Linked DNA regions of Homo sapiens: region 2 is linked to region 1. The links come from fine-mapping of genetic effects on plasma protein levels. A gene starts in region 1. The other region holds a variant in brackets. All regions are shown on one strand. Distances are between the middles of the regions.

Region 1 (6,034 bases):
CTCCTCAGCCTAGAAAGATGCATTTCCCTCATTCCTTTTCCAAATCTCTCTTTTCTCAGTGTATCCTCCTTCACCCAATTCTCCCAGACCCCTTTTTTTTTTTTTTTTTTTTTTTTTGAGACGAAGTCTCGCTCTTGTCAACCAGGCTGGAGTGCAATGGCGTGATCTCGGCTCACTGCAACCTCCGCCTCCCAGGTTCAAGTGATTCTCCTGCCTCAGCCTCCCAAGTAACTAGGATTACAGGCACCTGCCACCATGCCCGGCTAATTTTTTTTTTTTTGAGATGGAGTCTCTGTCACCCAGGCTGGAGTGCAATGGTGTGACCTCGGCTCACTTCAACCTCTGCCTCCTGGGTTCAAGTGATTCTCCTGTCTCGGCCTCCTGAGTAGCTGGGATCACAGGTGCACGCCACCATGCCCTGCTAATTTTTTGTATTTTAGTAGAGACGGGGTTTCACCATGTTGCCCAGGCTGGTCTCGAACTCCTGAGCTCAGGCGATCTACCCACCTCAGCCTCCCAAAGTGCTGGGATTACAGGCGTGAGCCACCGCGCCCAGCCATGGGCTGCAGATATCTTAGTCCAGTGGAGCAGCAGGGTTCAGTAGAGATATGGTTTAAGAACTAGACTGGCTGGGCGCAGTGGCTCATGCCTATAATCTCAGCACTTTGGGAGGCCAAGGCTGGCAGATCACCTGAGGTCAGGAGTTCAAGACCAGCCATGGCCAACGTGGCGAAACCCCATCTCTATTAAAAATACAAAAATTAGCCAGATGTGGTGGCAGGAGCCTGTAATCCCAGCTACTTGGGAGGCCGAGGCAGGCGAATGGCTTGAACCTGGGAAGTGGAGGTTGCAGTGAGCTGAGATCATGCCACTGCACTCCAGCTTGCGCGACAGTGAGACTCTTTCTCAAAAAAAAAAAAAAAAGAACCACTAGGCTATAACTTCCATGCCATTTAGGGTTCATAGTCCCTACTGTATGCAAGAAGCAAACCTCTGCCTTCATATAACAAATGTTTCTAGAGCACCTACTATTTGCCGTGGAATAAAACACACTACCTGCCTTTAGGGGCTTGTGGTTTATACAGGAGAGAGATAATGATTATAATACGCCATGGTTAAGTTCAATGACAGTGGTATGTCCAGAGTTGTGAGAGCTCAAACAAATCATCCCACACACCTGGCTTCAAACATTGAAAATATAAGCCAGACGCAGCGGTGCACACCCATCATCCTAGCTACTTGGGAGGCTGAGGCAGGAGCATTGCTTGAGCAAGGAGTTTGAGGCTGCAGTGAGCTATGATCACACCACTACACTCCAGCCTGAGTGACAAAGTGAGACCTCATCTCTAAAACAGTAAAAATTAAAAAATAAATATTTATATACACAAAAATGTGACTTGTTATTAGCTTTGGTGGGTAAGATTACGTGTAATAATCTTTTCACTAGCTGGGCGCAGTGGCTCGCGCCTGTAATCCCAGCACTTTGGGAGGCCGAGGTGGGTGGATCACCTGAGGCTGGGAGTTCAAGACCAGCCTGACCAACATGGAGAAACCCCATCTCTACTAAAAATACAAAATTAGCCAGGCGTGGTGGCTCATGCCTATAATCCCAGCTACTCAGGAGGCTGAGGCAGAAGAATTGCTTGAACCTGGGAGGCGGAGGTTGTAGTGAGCTGGGATCGCTCCATTGCACTCCAGCCTGGGCAACAAGAGCGAAACTCCAACTCAAAAAAATAAATAAATAAAAAATAATAATAATCTTTTCACTGATGGTTATCTATATTTTCTAAAATGAACATTATCATTATCGTACACTCATACACACCTTTTTTTTAAGTGCCTCATATTTTAACGCAGAGACTTCAGGCCCTTCCCCTTGCCATGCTTCTCCAGTTTTATAATCACTTTTGGTGAAGGGGCCTTTTTTTTTTTTTTAATTGAGAAGGAGTCTCACACTGTCACCCGGGCTGGAGTGCAATGGTGCAATCTCGGCTCACTGCAACCTCTGCCTCCCAGGTTTAGGCGACCCTCCTGCCTCAGCCTCCTGAGTATCTGGGATTACAGGCGCCTGCCACCACACCTAGCTAATTTTTTGTATTTTTAGTAGAGACGGGGTTTCACTATGTTGGCCAGGCTGGTCTCGAATGCCTGACCTCGTGATCCACCCGCGTCAGCCTCCCACCGTACTGAGATTACAGGTGTGAGCCACCACGCCTGGCCCAGTAAAGGGGCATTTTTGTCAGAGGTCCCTGAGCCTAGAACTAAACAGCTAATTCTAGGTCTGATTCCCAATAATAGTGAGATAACTACAAGAGAAAAATACCGTACCGAGGTTCATGTAGCAACTTCCTAAATGATCGTGTAAGTCTTCTCTGGAGCTCCATTCATACTCGCAGCCCACAGTCTTTTGCATTTGGTCCAGTTGGCATTAAGATGCAGTTGTGCATGGTGAAGACTGTGCCACTCTTTGGGGCATGGAGACAGGCCTTGGGATGGACCCCTCTCCTATGTTAACTAATTCCTTTGTTTCTTCTCCTCCCACAATTAGCCTCTGAGAACCAGAATGGGAATGGACTGAGTGCCCCACCAGGTCCCGGTGGTGGCCCACATCCCCCTCATACTCCCTCCCACCCACCCAGCACCCGAATCACTCGAAGCCAGCCCAACCACACACCTGCAGGCCCGCCTGGCCCTTCCAGCAACCCTGTTAGTAACGGCAAAGAAACCCGGAGGAGCAGCAAGAGATAGCATGACATTCTTTCTTCCTGCCACCAACCACATCCCAAGTGTCCCCTGGAGAGCAAGATAGCCTTCCACTGATTGGCTGGTGTAGCAGTATTTTAGCCACTGAACTTCAGTGGAGGGTGGTGAGCAGTGTCCTTATCCACCCTAATCTCATACTCCCTCATTGTCCAGCTGAACTACCTGTCCCCTGGGAGTCAGGACCCTCTGCCTGCTCTCTTTCCTCTTTAGAAATGGCAGTTACTGGCTGGGCGCAGTGGCTCACGCTTGTAATCCCAGCACTTTGGGAAGCCGAGGTGGGCGGATCACCTGAGGTCGGGAGTTCAAGACCAGCCTGACCAACATGGAGAAACCCCGTGTCTACTAAAAATACAGAATTAGCCAGGCATGGTGGCGTATGCCTGTAATCCCAGCTACTTAGGAGGCTGAGGCAGGAGAATCTCTTGAAACCGGGAGGCGGAGGTTGAGGTGAGCCGAAATTGCACCATTGCACTCCAGCCTGGGCAATAAGAGCGAAACTCCATCTCAAAAAAAAAAGAAAGAAAGAAAGAAAGAAAGAAAGAAATGGCAGTTACCATCTGTTTCTTCTGTGTGAGACATGGGAGTCTAACTGAAGTCTCTCCTTCCTAATAAATGTTACCACTCTACTCTGTGTTGGACTCCTTTGCTTTCTGTGGGAAAAGGAAGAGGTTAGCAACTAGGCATTTGGGAAGGTGGGGTGTCCCTAGAAGGTGGAAGGAAAATAGGTTACAGGTAAGGAGGCCCAGGCAAAGCAGACCTGCCCCTTTAAGGTAGTGTCCCTCCCCTACCCCCTCCCTGCAGGTGACCCTTGCCCGCCTGCCTGCCTGCCCCCCCAGCTGGAACCAAGAAGGTTGTGTCCCCCTTCCTCTGGGTGTCCTTGTCTCCTGCTATCAGGTAATGCCAACCTCAACCCCCTGGACCAGTCACCCCGATCAGACTTTGCTTGCCTGATTTTAGGCCAGGTCAGACATCAGAGGAGAGCCCAGATCCTTGTTTCCTCTCCCCCCGCAGGGCTTCCCCTTTCTTGGTCATCGATCCCTAGAGCTCTGGCTCTTTCTCTTCTTGGGGTGAGAAACTGCTAAGAACAGTTTATTTCCCATGCATGCATCTGGGCTTGCCACTGATCTGCCTTTTCCCCCCTCCTCCCCAGGTTAGGGACACCTGGGTCCAACCTTCCCAAGGAATATGGGGATGGGGGTTGGAGATGAAGTTTAGTGCTAGACTGTAAGGTAGGTGGGGTGGAAGTACATGAGGGAAAGGGCTAAAATGGTACTAATGGTGTTAAGGATAGGGTGAATTATTTAAGAGGAAAAAGACTAGGCCCAGGTTCTCCTTAGCCATGTGGCTTTCCCAGGGCAGAGGGTGGCCCCTCCCTACCCAGGGGCCCAGCAGAGACTGACTTTTGATCCCTACCCCAGAGACCAGTGAACCATTAACTCCTCTCTTATGTGAGCCTTCACACACTGGCCCCACCCCTGACCCCGCCCCAAGGCAGGTGGGCTAGGAGGGGGTGCATGTCCATCTCAGCCTTCTATGTGACGTGGCCTCCGATCCACCTGGACACCTGGAGGCTAAGCCTGGATTCCCCCTTCCCTGACTCAGGAACTGCTTAACGTCTACAGCAAGGCCTAATAGGGGACCTGAGGTGACAGCTCTTATGTTGCCAGTAGGGGTGAGGCCCTGGGGATTGAGGGGGGATAAAGAGGTGGGGCAAAGTTGAGGGGTGGGGTTTAGGGGACAAGGAATGGACGGTCAGCTCTGGATGAAGTATGAGGAGAGCTCTGACTCAGGGAGGTGCTCCAGGAACCAGCAAACAAGAGGCTGCTCCCGCAGGAGGCAGTGTGAAGGGAGAAAGAAGGCTGCAGTAGGGGCTGCTGCTGGACTCGGTGGGGAGCAGGTGCAAGGAGCTCTGGCTCCCCCATGGACCTGAGCTGGAGAGCAGAGCGCAGCTCCAGCCCATTCCTCATTCTTCCAGGGCACAGTCCTCAGGATGTTTCGGGGAGAATAGGAGCCAGAACCTGAGCCCCTAAGCTATTCCCCTCACCAATGATGGGGTCCCCAGTGAGTCATCTGCTGGCCGGCTTCTGTGTGTGGGTCGTCTTGGGCTGGGTAGGGGGCTCAGTCCCCAACCTGGGCCCTGCTGAGCAGGAGCAGAACCATTACCTGGCCCAGCTGTTTGGCCTGTACGGCGAGAATGGGACGCTGACTGCAGGGGGCTTGGCGCGGCTTCTCCACAGCCTGGGGCTAGGCCGAGTTCAGGGGCTTCGCCTGGGACAGCATGGGCCTCTGACTGGACGGGCTGCATCCCCAGCTGCAGACAATTCCACACACAGGTACTGACCCCTTCCTCCACTCCACAGGGCCACATCTCCCAGGTCCTCTCAGTGCTTGCCCCCAGTTGCCTCGTTCTGGCTTCCTCACGAGATCCCTGGAGTTACAAATTCTTCAGAACCGAGCTCCTTGGTATCTCTTCAAAACCTCTCATGCTTCTATTGCCTTCTCTCTCTTTTCTTGAGACTGGGGGTCTCGCTTTGTCACCCAGGCTAAAGTGCAGTGACACATTCACGGCTCACTGCAACCTCTGCTTCCCAGGCTGAAGCCATCCTCCCACCTCAGCCTCCTGAGCAGCTGGGACCATAGGCACACACCACCACAGCCGGCTAATTTTAAAAATTTTTTACAGAGACAAGGGTTTCGCTGTGTTGCCCAGGCTGGTCTCAAACTCCTGGGCTCAGCTCAGCGATCTGCCTGCCTCAGCTTCCCAAAGTGCTGGGACTACAGATGTGAACTACCACCCTAGCCCTCCGTTGCCTTCTAATTCTCTCCTCCTCCAAATCTCTAAGCCCTTAAATTTCTTGCTCTTAGTATCACTGTTCAGTGTCTCTGGGCTGATTTGGCTCCAAATTCGTAGACTTCTTTTTTCTTTTCTTTTCTTTTTTTTTTTTTTTTTTTTTTGAGACAGAGTCTCGCTCTGTCGCCCAGGCTGGAGTGCAGTGGTGTGATCTTGGCTCACTGTAACCTCTGCCTCCCCGGTTCAAGCGATTCTCCTGCCTCGGCCTCCTGAGTAGCTGGGATTACAGGCACACACCACCACGCCGGGCTAATTTTTGCAATTTTAGTAGAGACGGGGTTTCACCATTTTGGTCAGGCTGGTCTCGAACTTCCAACCTCAGGTGATCCACCCACCTCAGCCTCCCAAAGTGCTGGGATTACAGGCGTGAGCCACCGTGCCCAGCCATTCGTAGCCCTTTTGGTTGTCGTCCTTTTTTTT
Region 2 (9,148 bases), 18 kb before region 1:
CACTTTCCTGGACTTGCACTCTGCCTCCTCTTCTCTGGGTTGTAAGCTACCTGAAGACAGGACGATATCTTCTATTTCTTTTTGGCCCTCCTAGCACTCCACAGCCTTTAATACAGGGCTTTGTACATGGGTACTCACCTAATTCTGGATAAAGTGCATCCTTGGGCAGGCTTTCCCTCCATCCACCCAAACACATAAGACATCCTGTAGTGGAGCTAAGGGTTATCCTCTTCTCCTCTGCCCCTGTCCTTAATGCCAATATCTGAGAAGCAGTGACCCCCAGCCCAGCTCTCCAATGCCCTCCTTCTGCTACTCTCCTGCTCTTCCTCCTTTCAGGCCTTGTTGTCAGGACATGAAATCACTCCACGTCCTGAGTGACACTCACTCTAGGATCTCGTTGTATTCAATTGTCTCCTCCAGGTTCTGAAGGTTGGGGTTGACACTGCGGATTGCACGCATGTATGCCTTTAGCAGCTGGATGTCTCGCTTCTGTTGTGGGGAAGAAGAACAGGAATAATGGTTAAGGCAGACAGCAGAAAAAAGACAAAAGTTTATCCAAGAATGAGGGCAACTGAGAGATCTGAAGAACAACCAGTTTGTAAGCTTCAGGAAGACAGGGATAAGACTGTCTCACTCACAGCTGTCTCCTTAGTACTTACAAATGTGCCTTCACAGAGGAGGCATGTGATAACTGGTAGGTGAATTAATGCTATGAATGGGATGAAGAAAAGTCAAGGAGAGCTCCAATCTGATTCCCTGCTAAGCCACAGGCAGAATATCCACTCATCTAGGCTCACAAGTGTAAGCACTGGTCTGTGTGTTCACAACTGGTTTTTATTACCCACAGGCAGGCAGTTATCTGCATATGAGGGATATGTTCTCCCCCGTGTCTTGGGGCCTACCTGCTCCGCCAGCTGGTGTTTGTGTTCAGCTGACGTCTTCTCCAGCTCTGCGATGCGTGTCTGCTGCTGCTGTACCACTGAGCGCAGGTGCTTAATGCAGTTATGGTTGGGCAGCTCATCTTTGGGCATCTCCAGGCTGCAGACCAGGGTGGGGAAAGAGCAGAACAGAGGTGATCCCTGGGACATGTATGCAAATGGCCTATTCTGTGGCAGATAACTGCTAAGTAGATTTTGTCCTACCCAAAATTTCTAACATTCATTTCAGGCCTCCCTCTTGTTTATTCCCTTCACTTTCTTCGTCCAAGCTTCCTACTTGCCCCTTTGCTGTCTATTTTCCTTAAATTTCTTTCCCCAATCAAGACACAGTGTTTTATCTATTTTTTAAATTTATTTTATTTTGTATTTTTATTATTTTTTTTGACACGGAGTTTCGCTCTTGTTGCCCAAACTGGAGTGCGATGGCATGATCTCAGCTCAGCGCAACCTCTGCCTCCCAGGTTCAAGCGATTCTCCTGCCTCAGCCTCCCGAGTAGCTGGGATTACAGGTGCGCGCCACCATGGCCGGCTAACTTTTTGTATTTTTAGTAGAAATGGGGTTTCTCCATGTTAGCCAGGCTGGTCTCAAACTCCTGGCCTCACGTGATCTGCCCCCCTCGGCCTTCCAAAGTGTTGGGATTACAGGCGTGAGCCACCGCGCCTGGCCTTTTTTTTTTTTTTTCGAGACCAAGTTTCACTCTTGTCACCCAGGCTGGAGTGCAATGGCACGGTCTCAGCTCACTGCAACCTCCGCCTCATGGGTTCAAGTAATTCTTGTGCCTCAGCCTCCCGAGTAGCTGGGATTACAGGTGCCCACCACCACACCTGGCTAATTTTTATATTTTTAGTAGAGATGGGGTTTCACCATGTTGGCCACGCTGGTCTTGAACTCCTGACCTCAGGTGATCCGCCCGCCTCGTCCTCCCAAAGTGCTGGGATTACAGGCGTGAGCCACCGCACGGGGCCTATTTATTTATTTTGACACACTGTTTTTATCTACTGCACAGCTCTCCTTTTCCTCCTACAGATTCTGCCTGTGCACTTATTCCTTCAGAGAAGCCCTATATTCACAGCCCCAGCTATCAACATTCTTTTTATTTTTTAGTTAGGGGGAACAGAGTCTCATTCTGTCACCCAGGCTGGAGTGCAATGGCGCGATCTCAGCTCACTACAACCTCTACCTCTGGTTTTAAGTGATTCTCATGCCTCAGCCTCCTGAGTAGCTGGGATTACAGGCGAGCACCACCACACTTGGCTAATTTTTTTTTTTTTTTTTTGAGACGGAGTCTCGCTCTGTTGCCCAGGCTGGAGTGCAGTGGCTCAATCTCTGCTCACTGCAAGCTCCCCGTCCCAGGTTCATGCCGTTCTCCTGCCTCAGCCTCCCAAGTAGCTGGGACTACAGGTGCCTGCCACCACGCCTGGCTAGTTTTTTGTATTTTTAGTAGAGACGGGGTTTCAATGTGTTAGCCAGGATGGTCTCAATCTCCTGACCTCGTGATCCACCCGCCTTGGCCTCCCAAAGTGCTGGGATTACAGGCGTGAGCCACCGCGCCCGGCCCCACACCTGGCTAATTTTTGTATTTTTAGTAGAGACAAGGTTTTGCCATGTTGGCCAGGTTGGTCTTGAACTCCTGGCCTGAAGTGACTTGCCCACTTCGGCCTCCCAAAGTGCTAGGATTACAGGTGTGAGCTAACATGCCCTTCAGCTATCAACATTTAGTCGAATATTTCATAACCCACAGAAATAAAAAAATAGGGCAAGAGGAAATATGAGAAGGCTGGCAATTATAGCAGTCAACCTGACAAACGGAAAGTAGTATTGGACTGAAAGGGAAGAATAGAGTCAATCAAGCTTTAATGTTATTACACAAATTTACTAAATTGCTGTGCCCCTTCTTTTGTTAAAGCAAGAGCAAAATGATTATAGTTGGAAAAGCAGCAAGAAAGTAAGATCTTAGAGCAGGAAGCCAAGGAGGCTAAGAATACTCCTTGCCAACATGCCAAAGAGACCTCCTCAGCTAGTGAGGAGGGCAGCCAGAGACAGGGGCATAAATGAGATGGCCCTTATCCATGTGGGGCAGAAGGGAACAAATCTCACCCACAGCCCTGTTCACAGGTCACAGGCCGCTTCGGGTTGTGCTCACAGTCGCTGAGGTGAGACATGAGGTTGTCAAGCCGGACAACGGCACTACAGCCGAACACAGCGTTGTCACAGGCAATCTGCAGCTTTGACAACATGTTCCGCATGATCCGAGGTACTGGGCGCAGATGGGCGACCGTCACAACACTACGGTCCACTGGACATGTCTGTTGCTGAGAGAACCACTGGGTGATGCAGGCGTTGCAGAAAGCATGTTCACAATGAGGTGCCTAGAAGAGAGAACAAGGCAAAAGGGGCGCAAGGGAATTAGCAGGACCTAAGAGCCTGGATATGATATAACTCTACAAAGCCAATCAAGCCTTTGAGCAGCCTCTACGACAAGAGGTCCACTGGGTCACAGCAAAGTATAGATCTACTACGGGCAAGGCATTGTAGGGGACAGGCTTAAGATACGTTTCCTGCTGGGCACGGTGGCTCATGCCTGTAATCCCAGCACTTTGGGAGGCTAAGGCAGGCACACTGCTTGACCTCAGGAGTTTGAGACCATCCCAGACAACATGACAAAACCCCATCTCTACAAAAATTACAAAAATTAGCCGGGCATAGGCCGGGCGCAGTGGCTCACGCCTGTAATCTCAGCACTTTGGGAGGCCGAGGCAGGCGGATCATGAGGTCAGGAGTTCAAGACCAGCCTGACCGACATGGTGAAACCCTGTCTCTACTAAAAATAAAAAAATTAGCCAGGGGTGGTGGCGCATGCCTGTAATCACAGCTACTCAGGAGGCTAAGGCAGGAGAATAGCTTGAACCCAGGAGGTGGAGGTTGCAGTGAGCCAAGATCACACCACTGCACTCTAGCCTGGGCAATACATCTCGAAAAAAAAAAGCTGGGCCTGGTGGCACGTGCCTATAGTCCCAGCTAGCCAGGAGGCTGAGGTGGGAGGATGGAGGATGGCTTGAGCCCATAAGGCGGAGGTTGCAGTGAACCAAGACTGCACCACTGCACTCCAGCCTGGGTGACAGAGCCAGAACCTGTTTCAAAATAAATAAATAAATATATATATATATATTCCCTGTGCTCAAGATTAAAAATGAGTTGTGAAACAAGACAAACAAGTAAAAAGTTATATAACAATAAGAGATACAAATGATATTCTAGGACAATAGGACAGATGACACAAGGCAGCCAATTATTAATTGCCATCTGGATTGCATACACAATAATTGCCAAAAATGTCCAGAGGAGGGTGAGGTCTTTTCAGGCTAGCTCAATCACGGCAGGTATTTATGAAGAGGACAGAATTTGATATGGGTCTTGAAGGATAATTCAGATGATAGATTTAGAGAGGAGGAGGACATATTTACTGGCAAAAATTCAATGTAAGAAAGCTAGGCCAGGCATGGTGGATGGCGCCTGTAATCCCAGCACTTTGGGAGGCTGAGGTGGGCGGATAATGAGGTCAGGAGATTGAGACCATCCTGGCTAACATAGCGAAACCCTGTCTCTACTAAAAATACAAAAAATTAGCCGGGCGTGGTGGCGGGTGCCTGTAGTCTCAGCTATTTAGGAGGCTGAGGCAGAAGAATGGCGTGAACCTGGGAGGCAGAGCTTGCAGTGAGCCAAGATCATGCCACTGCACTCCAGCCTAGGCTAAAGTGTGAGACTCCATCTCAAAAAAACAAAACAAAACAAAGCTAAATAAGGCCGGGCATGGTGGCTCATGCCTGTAATCCCAGCACTTTGGGAGGCCAAGGCAGGCAGATCACTTGAGATCAGTTCAAGACCAGACTGGCCAACATGGTGAAACACAGATATATTCATATATACATATGTATACACAAATACATATATATGCAGACATCTATTCATATTTGCTTATATCTGCCTTAAGACACACTGGAAGGATACCAAATAAACTAATAAAAATAGTTATCTGTGGGGGAATTAGGTGCACAGTAATAAAGACAGAAGTGAGAATTCTCACTGTATACCTTTTGATTTCTGAACTATGTTCATTTTTCACCTATTCAAAAAATAAATAATTATGATGTGGGGAAATCAGCATCCCTAGCAGGAGCCTTCTAACCTTAGAAATGTGTCTGGGAACCTGGCATCATGAGGGTTGCCTGCTCTGCTCCTCAGAAGATAAAGCCTGGAGGTAGATGGGTGGCTTCTGACTAGACTGTCACCAACTACGACTCACCTTTCCATAAGTGACTTGCCTAAAATGATAGTGCCAGAAAACAGACAAGGCCCTGCCAGGGTGAGGAGGGAACCTGACACACCCTGTGACCTCTTGACACTACTACTTGATGACTTGCTCCACACCCATCTAATATGCCTCTAATGGCAGCAGACTGCAAAGGCCTAGAAAGAAGACAGGTCCAGAGTTGGTTGCCATTGGAATGCAGTCTGAATTTTATTCAGCTCAAGGCATCAGTACTCCTTTTGGAGTAGTACTGGGAGAAAAAATAAAGGCTCAAGGGGAGCCCCTGGGAGTTAGGTGAGCAGTGAATGGGGGAAGGGCCATGAAACCTCATTGCCTAGTGTCCTGGTTTGGAAAATGTGATAATCTCTAGATAGCCAGGAAAGAGAAAGGATTAATTGGTATTTACAGAATGAGGGCAATAAGGATCCTGGAGGATGCTGTCCCATGAATACAACTCTTAAGGATTCACCTCACTCATTGTACTTGCCTGGTAATCGTGAGCTTCTCCTCATACTTGCCCCAGGATGATACAACTGACTCTGGTCTGGCAAGGCTGGCAGAGAAATGACCTATTGAAGGTGGCAGCTTTCACATCAAAATGCAGAGTGCATGGCTGTATCAAAAGCTGGTCTTTTCAGTAGATCCCAGGAAAAAAATAGGTCAGTACATACAGTTCCCCACTTCCTATTTGTTTTTGTTTTTTTTTTTTTGAGATGGAGTCTCACTCTGTCACCCAGGCTGGAGTGCAGTGGCACAATCTCGGCTCACTGCAACCTCCTACTCCCGGGTTCAAGCAATTCTCCTGTCTAGCCTCCTGAGTAGCTGGGACTACAGGTGTGTGCCACCACGCCCAGCTAATTTTTGTATTTTTAGTAGAGACGGGGTTTCACCATGTTGGCCAGGATGGCTCTTGAACTCGTGATCCACCCACCTTGGCCTCCCAAAGTGCTGGGATTACAGGTGTGAGCCACTGTGCCCAGCCTTCCTATTTGTTAGACAGTAGGCAGGTAGAAGAGGCCTGCAGGGAGCCTGGCTGATTACCTGAAGCACTACATCATAAAAATGCAGAGAGAACTTATTAGGAGAGTCCAGAAGTTCAATCACGGACAGGAAGATGGAACCTAGTAAGAGTTCCTGTAGAGGAAAGGAAGCTACCCAGCTACTATCACAAGACAGAAACAAGCAGCTGACTGTTTTACAGGAGAAATCTTTCAGAGTGACCTCAGAAAAAAATCTGAACCACTGGATCTCTGTGGCATCCACCTCTAGATTGATTCTGGAAGGCCTTATTCTTGTAGTCACCATTACTCCTTTGACCTAAATCTCTATTGGGTGAGGGTGGAGAGAAGAACACAGTGACTTCACCATGGGTCCCGCTGCCCATGAATATTTTCTACTAGTTCCACTGCTACCTGTTGCCCCACCAAACCTGCCATCAGACCAACTCACCTGTACTGGCTCCTCCAAGACTCCACTGCAAATAGGGCAGATAAGATCTTCGTCAACATCCCCCTGGAAACGGGTTACATCATACCCCATGTCTCATCACTGAAACCCAGGTCCTGAAAGGACAACAGGAAAAAGAGGCCAGTTCAGAAGAAGCCTACAAATATGTGACAAACATACACTCATTG[C/T]CAAGATCCATTCATTTATCCAACAAATATTTACTGGGAGTCTACTATGCAGCAGTCATTTGGCTCGGTGGAAGCTGACTCAAGAAATTTAATTCTGGCCAGGTGCAGTGGATCACGCCTGTAATCCCAACACTTTGGGAGGCCGAGGCAGGCGGATCACCTGAGGTCAGGAGTTCAAGACCAGCCTGGCCAACATGGTGAAACCCTGTCTCTACTAAAAATACAAAAATTAGCTGGGTGTGGTATGCGCATCTGTAATCCCAGCTACTCGGGAGGCTGAGGCAGGAGAAGCATTTGAACCCAGGAGGCAGAGGTTGCAGTGAGCCGAGATCGCGCCACTGCACTCCAGCCTGGGGAACACAGCGAGCCTCAGTCTCTAAAAAAAAAAAAAAAATTAATTCTAAGGCCTGGCACAGTGGCTCACGCCTGTAATCCCAGCACTTTGGGAGGCCGGGACAGGCAGATGAGCTGAGGTCAGGAGTTCAAGACCAGCCTGGCCAACATGATGAAAACCCAGCTCTACTAAAAATACAAAAATTAGCTGGGCGTGGTGATGCACATCTGTAATCCCAGCTACTTGGAAGGCTGAGGCACAAGAATCACTTGAACCCAGGAGGCAGAGGCTGCAGTGAGCCGAGATTGCACCACAGCTCTCTAGCCTAGGCAACAGAGTAAGACTCTGCCTTAAAAAAAAAAGAAAAAAAGAAATGTAATTCTAATGGGGGAAGACATTATATAAGCACACATTTAAAATATAAAGTGATAAATACTCAGAGTAGAGACAGGACCTTATGAGGACAAGAGACATGAATACCTAACCCAGGCTGAAAGCAGAGGGTGGTTTTGACAAGTTTTCCAGGACTGGGCGTCACCAGAAACGTGTCCTGTAGGGCAAGAGTCAGCTAAATGTTGGGGGAGCAGGGCATTAGGGTGTTATGCACATAAAATAGCACATCCAAATGCCCAGAAGAGGGCATATGATAGGTTCAGAGAATTTCAAGTGATTCAAGAAAAGGCTGACCTGAGAGGTGGGAGGGAGGGCCTGTCAAGAGACAAGGCTGGAGAGGCAAGCAAGGGCCATGCTGTGAAAAGTCTGTGAGGATTTTGGACTTTATTCTGAAGGGTATGAGAGAGCCACTGAAGGACTTAAAAAACAATGTGATAATAGTTCCATTTTAGAATCAGTATGTTAACAGGGGAGAAACTGGAGACCGGAAGAACATCTAAGTCAGGAGAGTGACGGTAAGAGTCTGAACTTAGGTGGTGGTGGTGATGGGGATAAAGAAGAGAAGAGAGGGCCGGGCATGGTGGCTCATGCCTGTAATCCCAGCACTTTGGGAGGCTGAGGCAGACGGATCATGAGGTCAAGAGATCAACACCATCCTGGCCAACATGGCGAAACCCCGTCTCTACTAAAAATACAAAAATTAGCCAGGCGTGGTGGTGCGCACCTGTAGTCCCAGCTACTCGGGAGGCTGAGGCAGGAGAATCGCTTGAACCCAGGAGGCGGAGGTTGCAGTGAGCCGAGATTGCACCACTGTATTCTAGCCCAGTGACAGAGCACGACTCTGTCTCAAAAAAAAAAAAAAAAAAAAAGAGAGGTCCAAAAGAGCAAGGACTCAAACAGCGGCAATGGCGCCATGCCCCTTCTTTGGGCTCCCAAAGGTCAAACCCAAAGAAGAGGTCAGTAAACAACTGGCTGGGCGCAGTGGCTCACGCCTGTAATCCTAGCACTTTGGGAGGCCGAGGTGGGTGGATCACCTGAGGTCAGGAGTTCAAGACCAGCCTGGCCAACATGGTGAAACCCCATCTCTACTAAAAATACAAAAATTAGCTGGGCATGGTGGTGGGCACCTGTAATCCTAGCTACTTGGGAGGGTGAGGCAGGAGAACTGCTTGAACCCAGGAGGTGAAGGTTGCAGTGAGCTGAGATCATGCCACTGCACTCCAGCCTAGGCGACAGAGCAAGACTCTGTCTCAAAAAAAAAAAAGAAGAAACACATAATCCTTGTCCTCAAACTAAGGTGTAGGCTTGAGCCCAATGAGTACATAGGAAAAAAAACACATAAAAACACATAAACGTATTAAGCAAATTATTAACAAGTAAAAGTCAATAATTTATGTAAGTTGTAAATATACAAAAAAGAACAAATGGTACAGATTAATCACAGAAAGCTTTCTGCAGAAAGAAGTTTTAAGAACTGGACTTTCAAGGGCAGAAGGAATCCCGAGCGACAGAGAAGAGGGTTGAGGCCTGGAATGGGAT

Alleles and levels. Alleles are on the strand shown, and positions count from the first base shown. The strength of an association depends on the size of the effect and on how common the allele is.
As copies of C replace T in region 2, the plasma level of the protein whose gene starts at base 3,586 in region 1 goes down (weak association).

What was found. PIP is the chance, under the fine-mapping model, that this variant and not a neighbour inherited with it causes the effect. The UK Biobank Pharma Proteomics Project read protein levels with antibody pairs (Olink). The fine-mapping took linkage between variants from a reference panel, not from the people measured, so its PIPs are less certain.
Region 2: its variant is fine-mapped to the plasma level of the SLC39A5 protein (UK Biobank, PIP 0.93).

Annotation. Positions count from the first base shown.
Region 1 is chr12:56,226,466-56,232,499 of GRCh38, forward strand. It overlaps SLC39A5 (solute carrier family 39 member 5), which reads left to right and starts at 3,586. Exons shown (of 13, transcript NM_173596.3): 1 at 3,586-3,657; 2 at 3,775-3,830; 3 at 4,366-4,408; 4 at 4,739-5,096. The coding sequence starts at 4,810. It overlaps NABP2 (nucleic acid binding protein 2), which reads left to right. Exons shown (of 7, transcript NM_024068.4): 7 at 2,549-3,389. The coding sequence ends at 2,748.
Region 2 is chr12:56,207,261-56,216,408 of GRCh38, forward strand. RNF41 (ring finger protein 41) reads right to left here. Exons shown (of 7, transcript NM_005785.4): 3 at 6,698-6,810; 4 at 3,037-3,308; 5 at 903-1,038; 6 at 386-489. The coding sequence starts at 6,787. Among named protein-coding and RNA genes, the nearest start is that of RNF41, 10 kb to the right of the region's middle. RefSeq lists a silencer at 870-919. The variant C/T (reference allele first, on the strand shown) is at 6,883.